6 linked regions of the Homo sapiens genome follow. The protein of the gene in region 4 purifies or fractionates together with the protein of the main gene of each other region. This does not show direct contact. Each region holds a gene or a part of one and is shown on either strand. Other genes may lie near its edges. The genes, in order: AKR1B1, NFIA, NFIB, PAX7, MYH14 and SLK.

Region 1 (3,500 bases), on a different chromosome or scaffold from region 4:
AGGCAGGTGCAGTTCCTTATTCTCCTGGGTCTTCCCATGCCGTAGCGGCTGTGTTGTACCTTTCAGACCCTCAGCAGGGCTCTGGTAGTCTCTACTCTTGAAGGTCCTCAAACTCCATTCTCTTCTCAGGTGAGGGTTTCAGGCAGATGGGGAGACCATCTCTGCCCCAGACCCATGTGGCTTGGACAGGGTTTCTTTCTGGCAGTCTTGCCTTCTACATTGGATAGTAAACAATTACACCTGTAATCCCAGCACTTTGGAAGGCCAAGGCGGGTGGATCACCTGAGGTCAGGAGTTCGAGACCAGCTGGCCAACATGGTGAAACCCCCTCTCTACTAAAAATACAAAAATTAGCCCGGCATGGTGGTGGGTGCCTGTAATCCCAGCTGCTTGGGAGGCTGAGGCAGGAGAATCACTTGAATCCAGAAGGTAGAGGTTGCCATGATCTGAGATTGTGCCACTGCACTCCAGCCTAGGCGACAAGAGCAAAAAAAAACTCGGTCTCAGAAACAACAACAACAACAAAAACCCATCACAGCATTGTAAAGCCAGGAAGCTTTTAAAACAGAGATGATGTCTGGTGCCCACCAGTGTCTTGTTACTGATAGTGTTTTTAATCTAGTTGAAAAATTGTTGGAGGTAAAAGTCATTGTAAGTCTCCTATGTATGCTCACAGAATACTCCTAGGGCTGAAGGTACAACTATGTTTCTCCATCTTTTGCCATGATCACTACCTCCCTCCCACCTAGGAGCCTTGTGAGACTTTTTTTTCCCCTAATTTGCCCCAAAATAAAATTGTAATATCAGAGATAATATTGTACTTCTGCTTATGGCCAGTAGCCTTCTAGAGGGTCACAAGCTGTTCTATAAGCTGAGGGGGGTTTTTTTGCCCCAGAGAACTAATTTTTGTCTCTTTGGGGACAATAGCACCCACTTTAAGAATGCATGAGGTAAAAGAAAATGTGCCAGGAAAGACTTGCTCCACCTTCCCCAAGTGGGGTAAGCTTGTGATGGCCCAAGATCCTTGGATGGGGTGAGGGTTGAGGCGCTGTGGGCATGGAGGTAACACAGGAGCCAGATTTACTGTTCACTTCCCTGGTGTCTCTAAAGCCCCCATCTCTTCCTCTTCAAGACCAAAGACATTTAAATAAGCCCTGCCCCTACAGGGTCAGTCCTGGTCCATGCACATCTCAACTAGTTGGAAACAGCAGTGTCTTAGAATTTGGGACAAATTGATTAAAACAGAACAGGAGGAAGTTAATTTCTGCTGCCAAACCTGATTCTGAGTGATCGTTTCCTGTTCCTTGCTCCAGGATTATCAGCACAGCATTCTCATGCTTCCTACTCAGGACCGTTTCTTTACCCAAAGTGAAGTTTCCTTTGCCCCCTCCCCTTATCCTTTGATTTCAGTAGTAACACCTGCTAACTAGAGAACATTTCAAAAATGAAGAGTTCCCTGTTCCCAGAGATCCCCGTGGTTAATATTGCAAAATATCCAATCTCTGAGATACTTTGGTTTTACCATAAACACTGTCCTGTGACCGTCTTCCTGTTTAGCACTGTGGCTTGCTTTTTGACTTGCAGAGGGAAGAGAGGGAGGGGTATCTTGAAGTAACTAGCAAGACCTGTAAGCAAAAGGGAAGAAGACTAGGTTTTAAAAGGAGTGTTGTATCTGTGTAGGAGGGAGACACTGATTTTAGTTATCAGTGTCTCAGAGTTGGTATTAGCCAGCCGGTGTTATCAAAGGAGGAACTAGGACCGCTGTCTTGAAGGAGGTGGTGGAGGACTCAAGGGCAGAGGCTTCTCACTGCCATCACTTGGTGCCATCAGCCCAGAGCATTTCAAGTCACTGCCCAACGTAGAGCTTTGCAGAGCCAGAAGTTCTGGGAGGAATGGGCATGCATGGTTTTGCCCATCAAGGGCACACAGATTAGTGGCAGGATCGGGTTAGAAACATGTAGGATTTGTATGATTGAGCTGTAATTGGAGTGTTTCATATACTGCATTTCTACAGCTCTCATCAGTAATGGCTGTGCCTGGATGCCACCCAGCATGTTTTCATAGTTTACCTTCTTTTTAGAAGTCAATCTGGACCCCTCCTTCTGTTTGCATTTTCTCTTTGTTGACATGGAATGGGGAGATGTTGTCATCCTGTGTTGGCATTCCCAAGTTTAGTGAATGGTTTCTCACCATAGCTTAAGTTGGCTGCTTCATTTTTCATAAGGCAAATTAGTTTCTCTCAGGGAAGGGCTGTACATTGAGATCATTAACATAGAATGTGGTTGTGGATCCTCGTACATTTTCATTGCAGAGGTGACTTTTTCCCTCCAGCACCTTTGATCAGCCTCCCAGCACACATGTCTCCAGCGAATGGCACATATCCAAGGAATGATCAGCAGCTTCTTCGTGACCTCTTGCAGTCATTGCTGTCTTTTACTTTTCTAGAAAAACCTCTCACAACTTTTTTTTCATGTCGTGCCAACGCAAGCTTGATTATCCTAGTCTGTGCTCTTTTGGTTCCAAAGAACTGAAAAACCACTTTAATCTTAAGCAGGAAAAAAAAAAGTGTGTTTGGGGTGGGGATTGATTGACTTCCCCAAACAACAGCCGCTGACATTAGGTGTTTGAGATTCAGGGTTGTAAATGTTGTCACCAGGATTTGGCCTCCCTCCACTTTCCTGCAGCAGCTCCAGGCTGACATTCTCCCAGCTCAGTGACCCCAGCAGAACCGGGGCTGGACTCAGGGGTTCCAATTCAAGTGCAAAGATTGAGTCTTATGGCCTGGATTGAGTCATGTTCCTGTCCCCGCACCAGTTGCATGGCAGGCAGTGCGTGGCTAGGCTGAGCCTGCGGAGTGTGCCCTCAGCAGCTCCTCAGAGAAAAATCAATCAAGGCGCCATCAAGCCTGGAGAAAGTTCAGTGTGTCCTGGGCAGTTTCCTGCCTGGGCCCCAGTTGTTCTTTCTGGGGTAGGGATGTCCTCTGCTCTCCCTGCTGTCATCAGTGGTGGTTGTGCCCGGACACCACTCAGGGCCTGTGGTAAGGCATTCTTTCTGGAAATTGAGATTCTCTGTTCCTTCAACCGTGCAGAGTGGGGAAGGCTGCAAGAGCAGCTTCTGAGGTCCTCCAGTCAAATAAGAGGTCGCCAGGTCCTCTGAGGGTCGTCCCCTCTTAACCCACACCTTCGATGAGCATCCCCACCCTGCCTCGCTGCTCCCTCTGAGGTGGAGAGTGAGCTCCATGCTAACAGGCTCTGGTAACGGGCTTGTTCAACTGGGCCCCTTTCTTCCCCAAAGCCTGTTGAAAATAGCTGATGTCAAAACACAGATGTCTGCAGCTGCTATGGCCCTGGGGGGTTTTTCTTTTCATTTGTTTCTACCCCAGCTCTCCAAAGGAATGTGCTCTGTTCATTCAACAGCCCGCTGCACATGTTTATTGCTCAGCTCTGTGATCATAGCAGGATAGTGAAAGTTGGGGGATACGTGTCCATGCAGCCTACCTG
Region 2 (3,500 bases), about 42 Mb from region 4:
GTTGAGTAGGTTTATAGGACAGGTATCAGGCTTCCGAGACACTGAAACAGCTCCTTCAGTGATTGAAAGGATCTTTGCTATTCCTGATGCAAGCAAAATTAAGTAAAGGTAATAATGGTAGCAGCATGGAAGCAATCAGTAACTACTGCACTAAAAGATTACCGTGCAAAAGTGTTCTCTTTCTACCTTAAAACTAACAAGTACTCATACTGCTGCCATTAGGACAACAGCAACTTGCTTTGTCACTGGCTAATTAACAATTAAAGCAATTACCTGACAAATTGTGGTCACTTATTAATCTTTCAAACTGAATTTTAAGACTGCTAAAAATACTTCTAATGTTAGAAAATTCCTCATCTGCAAAAAGTGAAGATGGCTCACTGTGATTTAGCTTTTAGGCCTAATGTCACTTGAAAATTAGCAAAGGCCTTAGTTGAATTAAACATAAATTAATTTGTTTAATTTTAGATTTTAAATGTCCCCACACAGCTGCCTCCAAGCTTTTATTCTACCCCATGGCAGGTAATAATATCAAATATAAATTGTGAAACTGTCATTCTATGGCCTAAAAATAGCAACCTGCCTCTATCCAAGAAATGAGTCCTTAAAAAGTATAACCTTTCACAAAATCTAACTAATTTGACTGAGAATCTTTCTAGAATCTGATTACATTACCAGAAGTTTATACAGAAGTGGTTAAAAAAAAAAAAACAACAACTCTCCAGAAACTTCTCGGTTGAGTGCCTACTAATGAACAAAGGTTAACTTTATCTAAAAGGTCAAATGCCTGGTGGCTAAGGTTATGACCTTAACAACTTAAATTGTGACCTTGCCACGTGCCGGGTATATTGTAGATTCTGATACAGATCATCTGGTAAAGACTGGTCATAAATTAGCTTTACTGTTACACACCCACAAAGAAAACCATTTGCCACAATACCATAGTATCCCCAAGTTGTCATATGATACATGGGAAGGACAACTCAAATTGAGACCAAATTAAGGGCATAAAATGGTTTTGTTCTTTTAACAAGATGAAATTCTCAGGCTTATGAAATCACTCCAATTTCATTACACTTGTTACTGCTTATCAGCCACAAAATTCACAGTTCTAATGCCACTGGATTTAGAGGGAAAAAACTGGAATGTAGTTTATGTATTATATTTTAGCATGTCAATAAGTCTTAGAATAAATCACCTCCGCTTTAAAAAAAAAAAGATTGATTCTGCATTTGCTTCTAGTATTCTCACGTATGTTCTGAGATTTCAACTTCCTACCAAAGAAAGGTGGACACATAAAGCAAGAATTATTACACACAAATTTCAGAAGGAAAAGAAGATCTAATTTCTATGACCATCTAGGGGGAAAAAAAGGCATTCTGGAAAGGAAAAAAATATAACAATTTAAAAGAAAGAGCGAGAAAAAACGCATTATAGGTGAAAAGGCCACAATGGTTTTGGCATGTATCTTGAAGCACGTTTCAGAGTCTCTGCCTCCTGCCAATACTGGCAAGTTCTCAAAACTTTTAAGGAGGTAAAAACATTGTTTAGTGTTTACAAATCTTCAGTATTATAACAGATGCTTGTCAAATCAGTTGTATGTAAGTTGACCGATCTACCTCATATTTGTATTGGCAGCTTCCCTTCCACAAATAACAGGTCTCTGAATCTCTTAAATCAAATTTGAAATATTTTCAGACAAAAGACCCTTAATATTTTCTTTTACAGTCTTCCTGTTGCGCGCACAGAGAAGCAGCCATTACTGCGGTCCCGTGAAAACCAATGGCCAAACATTTGGCTGGCATTCAGGCATAACAAGGGATTCTGGGATACATCAGGAAAACCAAACCGAAGAGTAGTCTGATCTATGCTGCTGTCAATAAATCTTTCATAAGCAATAAGGATGCTAACTCTCCTAAGTAACCTTCTAAATGTCATTTTACCAACATAACCCCTTCAGGCATTGCAACAACCAACAACTGTGTTAGTTCAAGGATTGGGAGCAATAGCACAGTAACAAACCAACGACGAAAAAGAAGGCACGTAATGAGAACAGCGAAAAGATTGCATTTCTTTAAATAACAGAGAAATGTTTAAGACGAAAACTTAGAATGGACACTGCTTACACCGACAAAAACTTCACAGGTATTTCATTTTGATGTTATCTTATATGGAAGCACACATCATGATCTGCATCACCTGTTGGCACTTTCAAGTTTCGATGTTGGTCATCTATTCGGGATAATTTATAGGTTATATTTTTCTAAATATCTAAAAGGTAAAAACAAGATTTTAAAGAGTGCTTCTTGAAAGCACCTGTAACACCTATACTTTTTTTGCGTTTTGCTGTGCTTAACATATGCAGACACATTTTTTAAAAATTTTAACTTTACTTTTTCAGTAAACAAAACAAATGAACAACAACAGGGTTAAGAGTGGGTTAAAAAAGGGCTACTTATTCCTGCTTAGAGGTCACTTGAGAGGTGCTGACTTTTCATTCTTGCTACCCAGAATTGGCTAAAGCAAAAGGCAATTCTTATAATTAAGTATACATTTTTGAAAACCCAAATATTTGAAACACTTACAGCTCACATCCTCTAAAATACTCATCTATCCCCTGCCAACAGAATGCAAATGATGATGTGACATGCTTGCAAAGCTAATTTCTCCAGTTTCTTATGTAAGGGCAGATGGATAACAAAAGTTCTCTTTCTAAAACATATATTGAGAAAAATAATAGAGAACAGGCTATCAGCTGGCTTCTTTAAAAACTCACTAACATTTTTAGAATTAAAAATGTTTTGAAGAAAAGTGCAGTGTTTTTACAGGTAACATCTCTCCTTTGTAAAAAAAAAAAAAAAAAAAGAAAAAAAAACGTTAAATATTTGAACCCCAAAACAACCTACTGGTAGGATTCCACAACCCTCTTTCTTCCATCTGGCTCAAGTAACTGCCATGAAGGTAATCTAGCAAGACCGATATGTACATATATAAAGTCAACAAGTTACACAAGACCTGAGCGTTCACATAGCACAATGAGCCTTTTGTCTAAAACAAGACGAAAGGAACAAAGTAAAAATGCATTATTTTATCCAGTCCTCAATAGTTTTATCCTGCATGCTATTCTAAACACTGAAACATGCACAGGTAAGACATGCCTTGAAAAAACAGAAAAAAAATTTAAGATTTTACAATCAAAGCAACTCACTACATCAATTATCAATAGCAATTTTTCAATGTGTTCATGCAATATACAGGTTGGTTATTTTTAATATTAACCTCTCCATCAATTACTGAAAGAGCTGGTTTGTTTCCCTTAGCTATCTGAGACAACACTAAGAATTCCTAAATACAAAGCTACTAAGTCTGCGTATTAATGTGATTATTTTTCCTTCCTAAATGATCAGCAATTTGATAGTAATCTACCTCCAACTTCTTAATTGGCAAGGGGTTCAAGAGGCCTCAGTAGGTTAAAAACACTCCCAGCAGAAAACCAACTA
Region 3 (3,500 bases), on a different chromosome or scaffold from region 4:
GATAGAAAAGAGAGATGTCTTGTCTGAAGGTGAAGCTAACAGCATTAGGAAAGGATTATTCTACTTTATACACGGTTCCTATTATACAAAATCCTGAGAGTTTTTTTGTTGCTAGTTTTTCTTTTTCTTTTTTTTTTTTTTTTGAGATGAGAGTAATATGCTTCCTTAGAAGGTGATATGTATCTTGAAAAAGTGAAGAAAAACTGAGAACAATATAGGCAGATTATCACCTAATATGCCCTCTTAACTTATAAAGAAATTGAAATATACGTAAAACAAGCACTGAATAATTAAAGAAATGTGTAACACTAAGGGCCTGATTTTAATTTGCATAATTTTTCCCCTAACAGTGCCTAATTAAGACATCAGTTAAAAAAAAAATCCAATGGAACTCTAAGATTTTCCACACTGAATTAACGTTAAGGACTTTTAATGGATGTCTTAATTAGACTTTGTTATTCATGGAAATTCTACACAAATTAAAATCAGACCTTGTGTGCACTGTTCCCAGCTGAGTCTAGCAAAATGCTCTATGGAACTGAGACTTCTGAATCCATGAGCTGACAACAAATTTTATTTCTAAACGATATACTAAGATCCCACTCTCACTTAGCTGTCTTTAGTACTTCAGTCATGAAAAGTGCTACAACATTTTAACATTTTCTTCTAAAATACAAATAATAATTTTAACTTCAAATTCAAAATTCAATATTGAGTTTAATATCTCAGTCAGTCAAACTAAAAGTAATGATAACTTTTTAAGTAACCCAAAGGGTCCTGGATGCGTTGTTATTCTAAATTAAAAGTTCAGAAAGGACCATTTTGTTTCATTTTAACAAATTAAGACCAAAGGGATTTTTTTCTCACCTTTCTTTGCTAATTTAAATTGATAGACACACACTATTTACTAGCATTTCAGGAATGTTCCACCGTAGTAATGACGGAATGTTTGTGAAAATTCTCCAAAATATTAAAAGGTATAATAAGTGGACAGGAGTCTTAGAGGTAAAGCAGCAAAGCTAAATATCAGATCCTAATATCAAAATTACATTACATGTTTTAGATATTACAATTATTGATAGCCCCAGGTCTGGCACAAAGACTGTCTACTTGATTGTGGAAAATGCTCATATACCAAATTCCTATGAAGTAACCTCTTGGTAGAAGAAACCATATGTCTAGGGGAGTGAGAAATGCTCATGAGTCACTACACTTACAAAATGAATCCCCAAAACCACTGCACAATGTTTCCAAAAAAAAGAAAGACGCTTCTAGTAATGTCACTCATTATTAAATGTAAGTCATGTCTCTGCAAAGAATATTCAAGTAGTCATCAAACACTGAGAATGTTTACATTACCAAAGCTTATTTTAATACCTAATAGTTGGTCTATAAATACAACTGTAAGTTCTTTTGTGTGTGTTTATTTTAGCACATACCTTACTCCTGCCTGAAATAAGCACATTGTCTCTGTGTCAAACCAGGTATTTAAGAGGTGTGAACTCCAGCCCAGAGCTTTCCTGTCAATGTACTTTCTGCATAAACTTTCCCTTCAGTCAGTGAAAATCCAAAAACATTAAACCATCTTCACAAATGTACCCTTTGGGGCAACACACTTCCTACCTGTCATTCAGCCACCTTTAAATAAAAACTTATTGAGTCACCAAGCAACTTCCTGAAGATGGATTTCAAGGCTTGACGTTCTGCCAGACACACTGTCTGACTAACCTTTGTGTCTCAGAATTAGATCTGTCCCATCTCCCTTAGGTGCTAATCTTATTTTCTCTCTTATTTTTACCTGGCTGGTTTGTGGACTGGATGGGTCATAAGAAGGTACATAGTTCTTCAGAGTATCCTGAGGATTCAGGTGGGGAGGATATCTGATTGTTGGATGAGAAAAGTAGCTCGATGGGGCTGGAGGAAGGATAGCTTGTGTTGGAAATGGCAACGGTGAAGGTGGAGGTGGAGTTCGAGTTGAGATGACTGCAGAAGACAGAAAAGGAAAGATTGACTCATCAGCTGGTTACCTTATTGCTCCATTCTGATCCTGAAGAATGCTGTGAAACTACAAAACTGGTAACCATTCATTTTTGTCCCCATGATTTAACCAAGCTCTCCTAAATCAACAGTTACTTTTTCATTTTTATTCTCAACACCAGTACGGCTAACTACACAGAGATAAAACATCACTCTAGAAAATTAACAATCTTGCTTCCTGGCTCTGTGAGTGGTTACAAAATCAGTTTCTCTTTTATAGGTTATGTCAATACTTGATAAAACACTTCTTTGAGCAAAGATATATCCCGTTGAAAACATATTCTTTGATTATAAAATCTTTAGGCCGGGTGCAGTAGCTCACACCTGTAATCCCAGCACTTTGGGCGGCTGGGGCAGGTGGATCACCTGAGGTCAGGAGTTCGAGACCAGCCTGGCTAACATGGTGAAACCCCATCGCTACTGAAAATACAAAAAATTAGCTGAGCATGGTGATGGGCACCTGTAATCCCAGCTACTTGGGAGCTTAAGGCAGGAGAATCACTTGAATCCAGTAGACGGAGGTTGCAGTGAGCCGAGATGGCGCCATTGCGCTCCAACCTGGTGACAGAACCCCATCTCAAACAAACAAACAAACAAAAAACATTTTGTCTCATAAGCCCCATCTCAAACAAACAAACAAACAAAAAACACTTTGTCTCATAAGTCCAGAGCAAGTCACAGCATTAAGTAGAGGGCAAAAGAGCCAAAAATTTTCTACCAAAATTAAAAACAAAAGTGAAATTCAATTTCAAATAAAACGTTTCCCTGTACATCCTACCTGGCAATTGTTTAGAAGGAAAGACAATAACTAATACAACATCATCTCATGTCATTTATAATTGTCTGGTCATGGTATAAATGCTTATGAACATTGGAACATAGAGCTAGAAACTCTCCTAATGAAAATGTTTCTTTCAAAACCAAAAGAGCTCTATTCTGCAACTATTTTTCTTTCTACTTTAACTTTTACTATATGTAGTTTAAAAGATATTGTTAATATAAAACCAAGAATAAAACACACAGCAATGAAAATTTAAGCTTTCATATAGGTAAGTATATTACTTTACCCATATATCACATATTTTATAATAATTTTATAAAGGGAAATACTATATAAAACACATGCAATGTGGACAATGTTCAATTTTACTATAACTTCTCAACATTAGTATTCTTATAATTTATTGTTCAGTTTTTGAAATATAAATCTTAAGTTTGAAAGATGGAGAAAGAGTGTAATCGTATGATCATTATCTCTAAAATGTTGAGAGAAATAATCATAGAAATACAAATTAAAACTACCAACAAATATATGTAGAAGTGAAAAGTAAATGTCTTTCTATTTTAATATTTCCCAATTCAAATAATAGGAAATTATAAACGATAAATGTCTAATGTTTTATGAGACAACTTAAAGAATATGAAAAAAAATAAATTTTAGCCATAACCTACAAAGGGAAATC
Region 4 (3,500 bases):
AGGACTGGCTGGACCACTGACTCAACCTGGCCCATGGACAAGTCACCCACTTTCTTTGGGTCTTGGTTTCCTCATCTGTAAAATGGGGATAATATAGAACCCCCTCACTGGTGGTTGTGAGGGCAGAATGGGGTCATACCTATGAAATCACTCTGCAAAGCGTCCTGTGCTGCACAATGCCGGGGCCTGCAGGAGGATGCTGGCTGGATCAGAGGGTGATGGCTTGGGCAACTGGGTCTACATGTGTTGCAGCTCTCTGCCAGGAACCTGGCCGAGGGGTCTCCATTCTCTGCTCTCCACCTCCCAGGTCTGGTTCAGTAACCGCCGCGCCCGTTGGCGTAAGCAGGCAGGAGCCAACCAGCTGGCGGCGTTCAACCACCTTCTGCCAGGAGGCTTCCCACCCACCGGCATGCCCACGCTGCCCCCCTACCAGCTGCCGGACTCCACCTACCCCACCACCACCATCTCCCAAGGTGAGTGTCTTGGCCCCGTCCTGCCATCTCAGTGGTGCCCCTTCCCTTCTTTCTTTACTTTCACTTACAAAGGCTCTTCTTTTTTTTATGACCATTTCTTACTTTCATGTAAGCAGGCTATTGAGAGCAAAAAGATGCAATCCTGCCCTTGAAATTCTTGGCCCTGACACAGAGCAGCCAGGTGGGATCCCCAAGGCAGCCCCTGTGCACCTGTTTAGAACTGAGCTTCTCAAATGGTACCAGGGATCTCCCAGGAATGTTACTAAAATGCTGGTCTGGGTGAGGCCTGAGATTCTGCACTTCTAAAAATCCCCCTGGGAATGCCCAAGCTGGTGGAGCATGGACCAGGCTTTGAGCAGCGAGGATTTGGAGGAGAGGACACTGGGCTGACCTGCTTTGGAGGGAAAGGAACGGATTCTGCAGGGACTTTGGGACCATGCATAGTCACAGTCTTTGAGTTTTTAAAGTGAGAGAGTGACATGAGTACAAATGTGCGTGTGAGTGCGTGCATGAGTGTGTGCGTGTGAGTGCATGAGTGTGTGCGTATGAGTGAGTGAATGAGTGTGTGTGGGTGTGTGCATGAGTGTGTGCGTATGAGTGAGTGAATGAGTGTGTGAGTGTGTGCATGAGTGTGTGCATGTGCACGTGTGTGTGTACTTGTTGGGAAGATGTTGGAATCATGTTGGAATCATTTTTTTTTTTAGATTATGTTGGTCTCCAACCTATGACAAAAAAAAAATTTACAAAGGGGCTTAAATAATTTGCTGGGACCTCATTTTCTTGCCTCTCTCTGGAAAGATCCATTTTCAGAGATGGAATAAAGGTCAGGGTCTCCTTTGAGGACCTGAGAAAGCTCCCTATGAGGGATTCCCCCCACTCTGGGGTGAACAGCCCTAGGCCAGGCTGGGCTGAGAGGGGTCAGAGCCCTCAGGTCCTCCTGGGAAGGAGGCCTCACTTGAGCCCAGTTCTCCCAGTGGCTTGAAGTATAAGATTCCCTTCTAGCGCTGGAAAGGGATAGGCAGAGGGAAGAAGGTGAGTGGGTGAGAGAGGATAGGGGATCAGGGGGCCTTGGGAGAGGAAAGGAAAGTCTGGGTCTCAGGAGAGAAGGTGAGCCTTGTAGGGGAAGAAGGGTTCCCTCCCCCTACCTCACCGGAACTTGCTCTCATTCTGTCACCCCAGAAGCCCTGTCCCAGCACACACCAGGAATACCACTACTTGATATTGGCCTCATGGGCTGGGCGCAGTGGCTCACAACTGCAATCCCAGCACTTTGGGAGGCTGAGGCGGGCGGATCTCTTGAGGCCAGGAGTTGGAGACCAGCCTGGCCAACATGTGAAACTCCATCTCTACTAAAAATACAAAAAAAAAAAATTATCTGGGCATGGTGGCGTGCATCTGTAATCCCAGCTACTCAGGAGGCTGAGGCAGGGGAATCGCTTGAACCCGGGAGGCGGAGGTTGCACGGAGCCCAGATCGCGCCACTGCACTCCAGCCTGGGCGACAGAGTGAGACTCCATCTCAAAAAAAAAATTAAATTTTAAAAAAGATAGCTACCTCATAAAGCCTCCTCTTAAATGACTGGCAGGCTGGAGTTCTGGAGGCCAAGGAAAGAGTCAAAGAGCCCCCTCCAGCACCACTGTGACTTGGTAAGATAAATTGAACCAGTGTTGAGGGTCCCAGCCTCTGCAAAGCTGCACAGAAGGGCCCAGAGAGCGCAGAATAACAGCCTAGCAGCAAAGAACAGAGATGGCTCCAGAGTTAGGCCATTCAAATCCTGGTCCCATCACTCACTAGCCTGGTCATCTTGTGTGAGTGCCCCAAGCCCACCAAGCCTTGGTTTCTTCATCTGTAAAATGGGATTTACAGTCTTGCTTCATACCCTTAGGCAGCGTTTGTAAAAGCACCTGGCAAGTGGTTGACGCTCACAAAACAAAACAGACTGGGTAGATTAACAGAGTCCCCATCAAGGTCTGGTTTTCAGCCCAGCTGACATTTATTGAGCACCTACTGTGTGCCAAGCACTGAGGAACAGTGGCTGGTGTGCACCTGTCTAGGGGTTGTCTAGAATGTTGGGTTGTCAGTCAAGACCTGGCCAGTGCCTACTGCCCTGCCCAGGAGCCAACTTGTCTCATCCCAGGTAGCATGAGAGGGTGGTCCCTTCCCTCCAAGGAATGGAGACCGGGAGGAGGAGTCTCTTGGCTTGCCTTCTGCTCTCAGAGGCCCAGCGTCCAGGATGAGGCCACTTGCTTAGGACCTCTCTTGGGTCTCTCTACAGATGGGGGCAGCACTGTGCACCGGCCTCAGCCCCTGCCACCGTCCACCATGCACCAGGGCGGGCTGGCTGCAGCGGCTGCAGCCGCCGACACCAGCTCTGCCTACGGAGCCCGCCACAGCTTCTCCAGCTACTCTGACAGCTTCATGAATCCGGCGGCGCCCTCCAACCACATGAACCCGGTCAGCAACGGCCTGTCTCCTCAGGTAGGTGGTCTCAGCCCAGCACCCAGGATCCCACCGCCACGAAAGTCAGACATCTGCAGACAGCACGTGGGTGGAAGCCTTGCGCTCTTTCCTGTAGCAGGCTGACTGCGGTTGGGGTTTTTGTTCTAGAATCAGGAATCCTCCCTGGACTCTGTCCTGTGCTCTTGGCTTTTCACCAGGAGTGACCAATTCCTGAAAGGCAGGACCATGTCCTATTGGTGGAGAGAATTGTGGATGGGGTTCTGGGCCGGTAACTCTACCCTGATTGGTCAATGGAATTCTGTTTGCTCCTGTGTGATTGGTTAAGTCATTCATTGCCTCGGGGTGCTGTTAGAAGTCACAGGACCTGCTTTGGATGAAGTCAGAGAGATAATGTGGGCGCTGATGGTGGTTATTGGTGAGTTTGGGGAACAGGACTTGATAATGCCGGAAGTCCCAATGAACTTGAGGAACTGATGGGCTCATTTTTTTGTAGCTTCAGCAGGCTCCCAAATATCCGTGGGGGAAGGGATGAAGTGCCCCCTGCCACATGTCTGTGGTGAGAATCCA
Region 5 (3,500 bases), on a different chromosome or scaffold from region 4:
AATGGGGTGTTGATAATTCTAAAGGGGTTTCACATGGTGAACGGCACATAGTAAGTGCTCAAGAAACGCGAGCTGGTACTATCACGCTTGTTTGTACTTTTACATGCAGTTTAGTTAGAAGAAGGGGTTCTGCTGCTACAGAGTCTGGAAACTTCCAAGGGAGCCAACAAGGAGGGAAAGGAAGAGTGAGAGACCTCCACAGTAAGAGGAGAGGGGACAGATGTTCAAAACCAGGTCCCCAGCCCAACAGGTCCACCCTCCTCCTCCAGCAAGCCTCACCCATCGATGCACAGAGACACCCACCCCCTGGCGGAGAAATAGCAGAGCTGCACCTCTCTGCAGATCCTGGGGGCGACGGTGGGAAGGAGCCAAGGAAAGAGAACTGCTGGAAGCCCCCATGTTCTGGGGAGTGAGGACAGATGTGTGGGTGGGTGGAGGGGAGATGGCAGAGAGATGGCGGAGAGAGATGCATGAAAAGAGGGGAAGGAGAGGAGGTGGCAGGAAGAAAAAGAGGAGAGGGTTATTAGTCAACAGTACAGAGCAAAGCAAGATGGAAAACCAGAATGTTGGCCATAAACTTCTGAACTCCTGTTCATCTTTGTATCCACACACTGTTGGCCAAAAGGACGAATGTCCTCTGTAAGAATTCAGTGCAAAGAATAAAAAATCTCTCCCTCTAGAGGTTGTGTCTGTTTTAGTAGGTTGCCCTTTTTGCTCTGGCTGCCAGGAAGCTCAAGAATGAACTTGATGCTCCCAGGCCACTTGTTGTTTTTGCCTCTCAGAGGAGAGCTAATCTCATTTCCGTTTTTCCCTGGGCTGTCAGGATGCTGGGCATCCAATTCTGGGCTCAAAGCAGCTCTAGCAGAGATTGGGCAAAAATGGCCCCGATTCCCCACTTTCCCCTGTATTGACACCCTTTGCCTGTGTCTTGCAGCTCCTTGAATCTGGGAAGACCTTGTGACTAGCTTTGTTTAGGAGGATTATGGAGGAAGTGACATTATGGCAGCTCCCCAGCTACTCGGGAGGCTGAGCCAGGAGGTTTTGCAGCTTCCACTTTTTCTTTTGGAACCCTCTGAGAGTCAGGCACACACAGAGTGTGACAAATGAGGGCTCACTGTGGAGAATCATGTGTTTATGAAGACAGCACAAATATTTTAAAAGGGCAGCAGATTTTCAGCCGGGAGATGATTCTCGTAGCATAATCTGGTTCTGTTCCTGAACATCAAACTCTGCTTTCCAATCTCCTTGTGTAAATACTATATGAGACATAAAAATAAAATCTATCTTTCTAGCATGAGCTCACAAGATCAAGACCCTCCATGCTGTTTTGCTCTGTGAGTGTGTTTTGGGAACCACTCACCTTGCTCATTTTGTTTTCTTTTTTTTTCCTTTTTTTTTTTTTTTGAGACAGAGTTTCACTCTTGTTGCCCAGGCTGGAGTGCAATGGCACGATCTCGGCTCACCACAACCTCCACCTCCCGGGTTCAAGCGATTCCCCTGCCTCAGCCCCCCGAGTAGCTGGGATTACAGGCATGTGCCACCACGCCCAGCTAATTTTGTATTTTTAGTAGAGATGAGGTTTCTCCATGTTGGTCAGGCTGGTCTCAAACTCCCGACCTCAGGTGACCCGTCCACCTTGGCCTCCCAAAGTGCTGGGATTACAGGCGTGAGCCACCGCGCCTGGCCGCTCATTTTGTTTTCTTGCCAAATTGCATGGACTGGTATTTCTACAGCTACCTTTTCATGTCAATAAAAGATTAAGGCAAACTGACAAATGCCAGAAACTTGGAACCTGGAAAAAACAGGATGCCAGTTCTGCCAGCTTTCTAAAACCATTTCTCAAACCTCCTCTAAGGATGGGGGGGCAGGGGCAGTGGCAGAAAAGGCTTGGAAAAGGTCAGAGTCCTACCACAGGGCATTTGGCATCTCTGCCTATGACCCCTAGAAGTGTCAATCCAAAAAGACAGTCACACTCATGGGGGCCTTTTGGGGGCAGGAAAGCCCTCCAAAACTGTATCTCAGTCTGTTTTTTCTTTCTTCTTCCCTGGGGGCGTGAAGGGAACTTTGTAAGAAAACAAAGAAAGCAAAGCCTAAAAGTTGACTGACCTGCAAAAGATCATCATTCTGTGTTCTCTTATTGTTATAAATTATTTCTCAGTAGAATTTTTTTTTTTTTTTTGGGACAGAGTCTCACACTGTCACCCAGGCTGGATTGCAGTGACACAATCTTGGCTCACTGAAACCTCTACCTCCCAGATTCAAGCGATTCTCCTGCCTCAGCCTCCCTAGTAGCTGAGACTACAGGCATGCACCAGGACATCTGGCTAATTGTTGTACTTTTAGTAGAGACAGGGTTTCACCATGTTGGCCAGGCTGGTCTTGAACTCCTGACCTCAAGTGATCCGCCCACCTTGGCCTCCCAAAAGTGCTGGGATTACAGGTGTGAGCCACCATGCCCAGCCAAATCTCCTAATTGTTTAGGGAACACAGGCCATCTAAAAATAATAAGTTTACTTCTTCCTGTTCGATATTCATACTTTTTCTGGTCTGATTGCATAGGCTAGTATTGCTAAAAAAACGATGTTTAACAGTAGTGTTAGTGGGTATCTTTGCCACGTTTCTGATTAAGGCGGAGTGCTTTATCCTTGAGAAGGATGCTGGCTTATCAATCAAATCAATAGTCAATCAATTAATCTATGGATCCATCCATCACTGATTTGAAATACTATTTGTGACACTGGCTATTCTGGGTCTGAGCAGAAAACTCAGGTTCAGACCTCCGCCTCTGAAACAAAGGTGCTCACGCTGTGGATTTGGAGAATGGCCGCACAGACCCCTAGAGCCGGGGTGGGGGAAGTGGGTCCTCACCGTCTTTCCAGATCTCTGCCGTCAGCCGGTCTGTGCTCTGGTGGAGCAAGGCTGCGACGTTGTCATTCAGAGGGTCCATGTTTTTCATCAGCCACTCGTTGGCCTTGTAGTCGACCTGAATGAAGTCAGGTAGAGGAGGGCGATGACTTGCAGGCTCAGACATTCTCTGGATTTCCTAAGGAGCCTTCCAGAAGCTCTGAGACTCCCAGGTCTGGAGCTCACCATGGACAAGCGAGCACTGGTGCCACCTTGTGTCCATATTCTGAACTGCACCCCACCAGCATGGTCCCCTCTCTCTCCTTCCCCTCTATGCCCCCTGCCACCTCTGTGACCTCCACCACCACCACTTTCTTCCTATTCATTCCGCTCCAGCCACCCTGGCCTCCGCACTGTTCCTCAAACATGCGAGCTTACTCCCACCTCGGGGTTTTACCCCTGCGGTTCCTGCCACCTGGGGTTCTGTCTCTGTGGGTTTCACACCACTGGCTCCTTCTGGGTACTCAGGGCTTTGCTGTGGGGCTCCATAGAGTCACGATCTTGGCCGCTACAATTCTCTGCATATGTGCCCCCCACCAGACAGCGGTCCCCCGAGGGCAGGGCCCAGGTCTGACTCACGGCCTAGCAGAGGGCTG
Region 6 (3,500 bases), on a different chromosome or scaffold from region 4:
CTCTGTCGCCCAGGCTGGAGTGCAATGGTGCGATCTCGGCTCACTGCAACCTCCGCCTCCTGGGTTCAAGCAATTCCTCTGCCTCAGCCCCCCAGGTAGCTGGGATTACAGGCATCCACCACCACACCTGGCTAATTTTTGTATTTTCAGTAGAGACGGGGCTTCGCCATGTTGGCCAGGCTGGTCTCAAACTCCAAACCTTAGGTGATCCACCCACTTGGGCCTCTCGAAGTGCTGGGATTATAGGCGTGAGCCACCATGCCCGGCCCATAGTGTGGCTTTTTAATTTAAATTTTCTTTATTGTTAAACTTTTTGAATAGGTAATGCATTCATGTAGTTTAGAATTCAAAAGGTACAGAATTGTAAACGGTGTAAAATCTCCTTTACCTACTTGCAGCCTAGCATCTGCTTCAAACACCCTAGTTGAACTAGTTGACAGTGGTCACAAGTGAGTTGCTAATAGTCAAATCCTATGGCCTTATCTAACTGTTCTCCTTAAAAGTCTTGTTTCTTAAAATTCTCCTCTCACCTGGCTTTTGTGACACAGCTCTGCTCATTCTCTGTGTTCTTTATCCCCTTTTGTCTCCTGAAATGTAGACATTTCTCAGTTTTGCCCCTGTAGTAAAGAACAGTCTTTACCTTGATGATTTTATTGCTAGTCATGGCTTCAACTGTTGCAGATAGACAACTCCAAAACTTAAATGGTAGCAGTTGTATAGAGCATGAATTGTAAAGTCATACAGGTGTGTGTTCAGATCTCAGTACTGACACTTACTGATTAATTTTCTCACTTACCATTTCTAGGCCTAGTTTTCCTAATTTGTAAAATGAGAGTGATACTACCTATTTGGTGTTGTTTATATAGCAGTTATCTAGTACCTGAGCTATAGTAATGGTTCAGTGAATGGTTGCTGTTGCTATTATTGTTTCTTGTTTTTATTATCAGTTTGGGCAGTAAGCGCCCATTTTCCATCTGGGTGTTATGCTCCTCCTCATTTCACCTAGGCCTTGTGACCTTTTTTGGTCACTGTATCTCAGTAGCACCTATACTGAACCCCAAACATTCTGTATCTGCTCTCCTTTCTTTGTTTTTCTTTGTAACAATTCATCACCACCAGACACATTTGTTTATTGTCCCCTCTTGCGAGTGAGAATATAAACTCCTTAAAAGCATGCCATGATCGCTTCATTTATTGATATGTACCCAGTTTCTAGAACAGTTCCTGGCACATTGTACAGATGACTACATACCTGTTCAGTGTTGACTAAAGAGTATAAACTCAGTAGAGAGAAAACCAAACTCAGCATCCTTTTCCTTCATCTCCATCTCACCTTTCCCCACTCACTGCAGGCCCACTCACTGCCAGATGTTCCTTCATCTCCATCTCACGTTTCCGCGCTCACTGCAGGCCACTCACCATCAGATGTTCTTTTCTGCATTCCTGTTCTCTTAACTGACATCTACGCTAGAAACCAGAATTATTTTTCATTTCTGTCACACCCTACATTCAATCAGGCGCCAATTAATTTGGACTCTTTTTCATAATGTGTCTCCTTTCTTTCTCACTGCTATCCTGGTGCTTGTTTAAATTATTCAGGAATTTCCTAATGGGCCTTCTAATTTCTAGTTCCCTTTCCTTTCTTCCCACTCGCCTGCCATCACCGGAGGATTTATCCTCAAGGACATCTCTTGACACTGTCATACTGATGTTGAGAAATCTTCAGTTCCATCAGAGTAAAATGTAAATTAATGCCTCAGTTTGACTGTGAAGCCTTCATAGTGCCACACCTGAGTCACAGTCACCCTTTCTAGCTTCCTCTCCCACTAGCCACTTTGTTCCCAGTCCAGGTTCCAGCCTTGGGTATAATGGCCACTCCTCATACCAGCTCCTCGGCTTCCTGCCTTTGTGCTGTGTTTCGGCTCTGTTTCTGGCATGCCTTCCCTATGCTCCCTATCAAATTCTTATCTTTCCTTCAGCACTAAGCTCATGTTTCACCTCTTTTGAGAACCCCTCCTATATCCTTCCTTCTTTTCCTGTGCTTTGTACCTCTACAGCACCACTTATCCCTGAATCACTTCTCCACAAAGTCATTGATACCTGTAACAAAATGCCATAAACTGGAGGCTGGGGAGTCTGAGACCAGGGTGCCAACACGGTCACGCTTTGATGAGGGCCCTCATTTGGGTTACAGACTGCCGACTTCTCACCGTGTCCTCACAGGGCGGAATAACAACTCTCTTTAGCCCCTCATGAAGGCACTCATCCCATTTGGAGGGCTCTACCTCATGACCTCATCCCTTCTCAGAGGTCCCACCTTCTATGCATAGTATCCGCACATTAGGGATTAGGTTTTTATATGGATTTGGGGGGCACAGACATTCACATCACAATGGTGCCTCTTACATTTCTCAAGCACTTATTTTTGCTCTGTATTATGGGGATAAAAATGATTCTGATTTAAGTTGTACCTTTAAACAGCTTATATTATAGTCTAGTGTGAAAGAAAATACAGGCGCATCGTAACTAAAATAACAAGTAGGCAGGGGTAAGTGCCATGTGGGAGAAACACATAATAGTTAATAATAGGTACCATATATTAGAGTGCATAGTATGTGTAAGTACATCATTATCACATTTATACTTCACATAGCAAATTATCCCTATTTTTACAGCAGAGGAATTGAGGAATTAAATGGTTCTCTAATATAGGGAAGTTAAGTAATGGACCCAAATTGTCCATTTATGTGGCTGAGCTGGACTTGCACATAGGGCTGTACAAAGCTTATGATCTTAAAAAATTGAGCAGGCGTGTCTTCTTGAGGATTATATACAAAGAAAGTGTTTTGGACAAGTAGTTTTATCTTGGCTGTCAGCATAAATTCTATATATAATACCAGCACATAGCAATTTCTTTTTCCCTTTCTTTTTAAGACACTGGAAGAAGAGTTTGCCAGGAAACTACAGGAACAGGAAGTATTCTTTAAAATGACTGGGGAGTCTGAATGCCTTAACCCATCAACACAGAGCCGGATTTCCAAATTTTATCCTATTCCCAGCTTGCATTCCACCGGATCATAACAAAGGGAAGCATTCTGTGCGTGGGTTTGGCTCTTTCAGTATGTCATTCTGTTCTCATCTTCTGCCACAGTCTCTCAGATAGCTCATGAAGACAATCACCTGCCTCACCTTCTAGGTGTTTTCCTTTTTTGTTTTTTTTGTTTTGTTTTGTTTTTAAGCAAAGATGAAGGGAAAACGAACTAAGACAGACGCTAGGCCATGTTGGCAAAGTAGCATCTTGGTGACTAAGGTGACTTTGTATATTCATCTTAAAAATTATGTTCTTTAGACACTGCTACCTGAAAACTGTTGGAGAAATAATGTTTAAAGTTATTTAAGAAAAACTGTTACATCACTAAGTATTAATAAATTCTTCTTACCTGACGTAACTTCTCAATGCCTAAATTCTGTAGTTGAAGCTCTGCTGCAGAGAGTTGGGA

What was found.
Region 1: the proteins of PAX7 (region 4) and AKR1B1 purify together in Homo sapiens (co-immunoprecipitation; one large-scale study listed by IntAct). This does not show direct contact.
Region 2: the proteins of PAX7 (region 4) and NFIA purify together in Homo sapiens (co-immunoprecipitation; one large-scale study listed by IntAct). This does not show direct contact.
Region 3: the proteins of PAX7 (region 4) and NFIB purify together in Homo sapiens (co-immunoprecipitation; one large-scale study listed by IntAct). This does not show direct contact.
Region 5: the proteins of PAX7 (region 4) and MYH14 purify together in Homo sapiens (affinity purification with mass spectrometry; one large-scale study listed by BioGRID and IntAct). This does not show direct contact.
Region 6: the proteins of PAX7 (region 4) and SLK purify together in Homo sapiens (affinity purification with mass spectrometry; one large-scale study listed by BioGRID and IntAct). This does not show direct contact.

Annotation. Positions count from the first base shown.
Region 1 is NC_000007.14:134,452,601-134,456,100, reverse strand, and holds part of AKR1B1 (aldo-keto reductase family 1 member B1), read left to right. Parts: intron 1-3,500. UniProt on the Homo sapiens protein: Catalyzes the NADPH-dependent reduction of a wide variety of carbonyl-containing compounds to their corresponding alcohols.
Region 2 is NC_000001.11:61,089,061-61,092,560, reverse strand, and holds part of NFIA (nuclear factor 1 A-type), read right to left. Parts: intron 1-3,500.
Region 3 is NC_000009.12:14,118,642-14,122,141, forward strand, and holds part of NFIB (nuclear factor 1 B-type), read right to left. Parts: intron 1,984-3,500; coding exon 1,799-1,983; intron 1-1,798.
Region 4 is NC_000001.11:18,700,346-18,703,845, forward strand, and holds part of PAX7 (paired box protein Pax-7), read left to right. Parts: intron 1-307; coding exon 308-473; intron 474-2,748; coding exon 2,749-2,951; intron 2,952-3,500. UniProt on the Homo sapiens protein: Transcription factor that is involved in the regulation of muscle stem cells proliferation, playing a role in myogenesis and muscle regeneration.
Region 5 is NC_000019.10:50,252,122-50,255,621, reverse strand, and holds part of MYH14 (myosin-14), read right to left. Parts: intron 2,984-3,500; coding exon 2,869-2,983; intron 403-2,868; coding exon 304-402; intron 1-303. UniProt on the Homo sapiens protein: Cellular myosin that appears to play a role in cytokinesis, cell shape, and specialized functions such as secretion and capping.
Region 6 is NC_000010.11:104,022,640-104,026,139, forward strand, and holds part of SLK (STE20-like serine/threonine-protein kinase), read left to right. Parts: intron 1-2,934; coding exon 2,935-3,081; 3' UTR 3,082-3,500. UniProt on the Homo sapiens protein: Mediates apoptosis and actin stress fiber dissolution.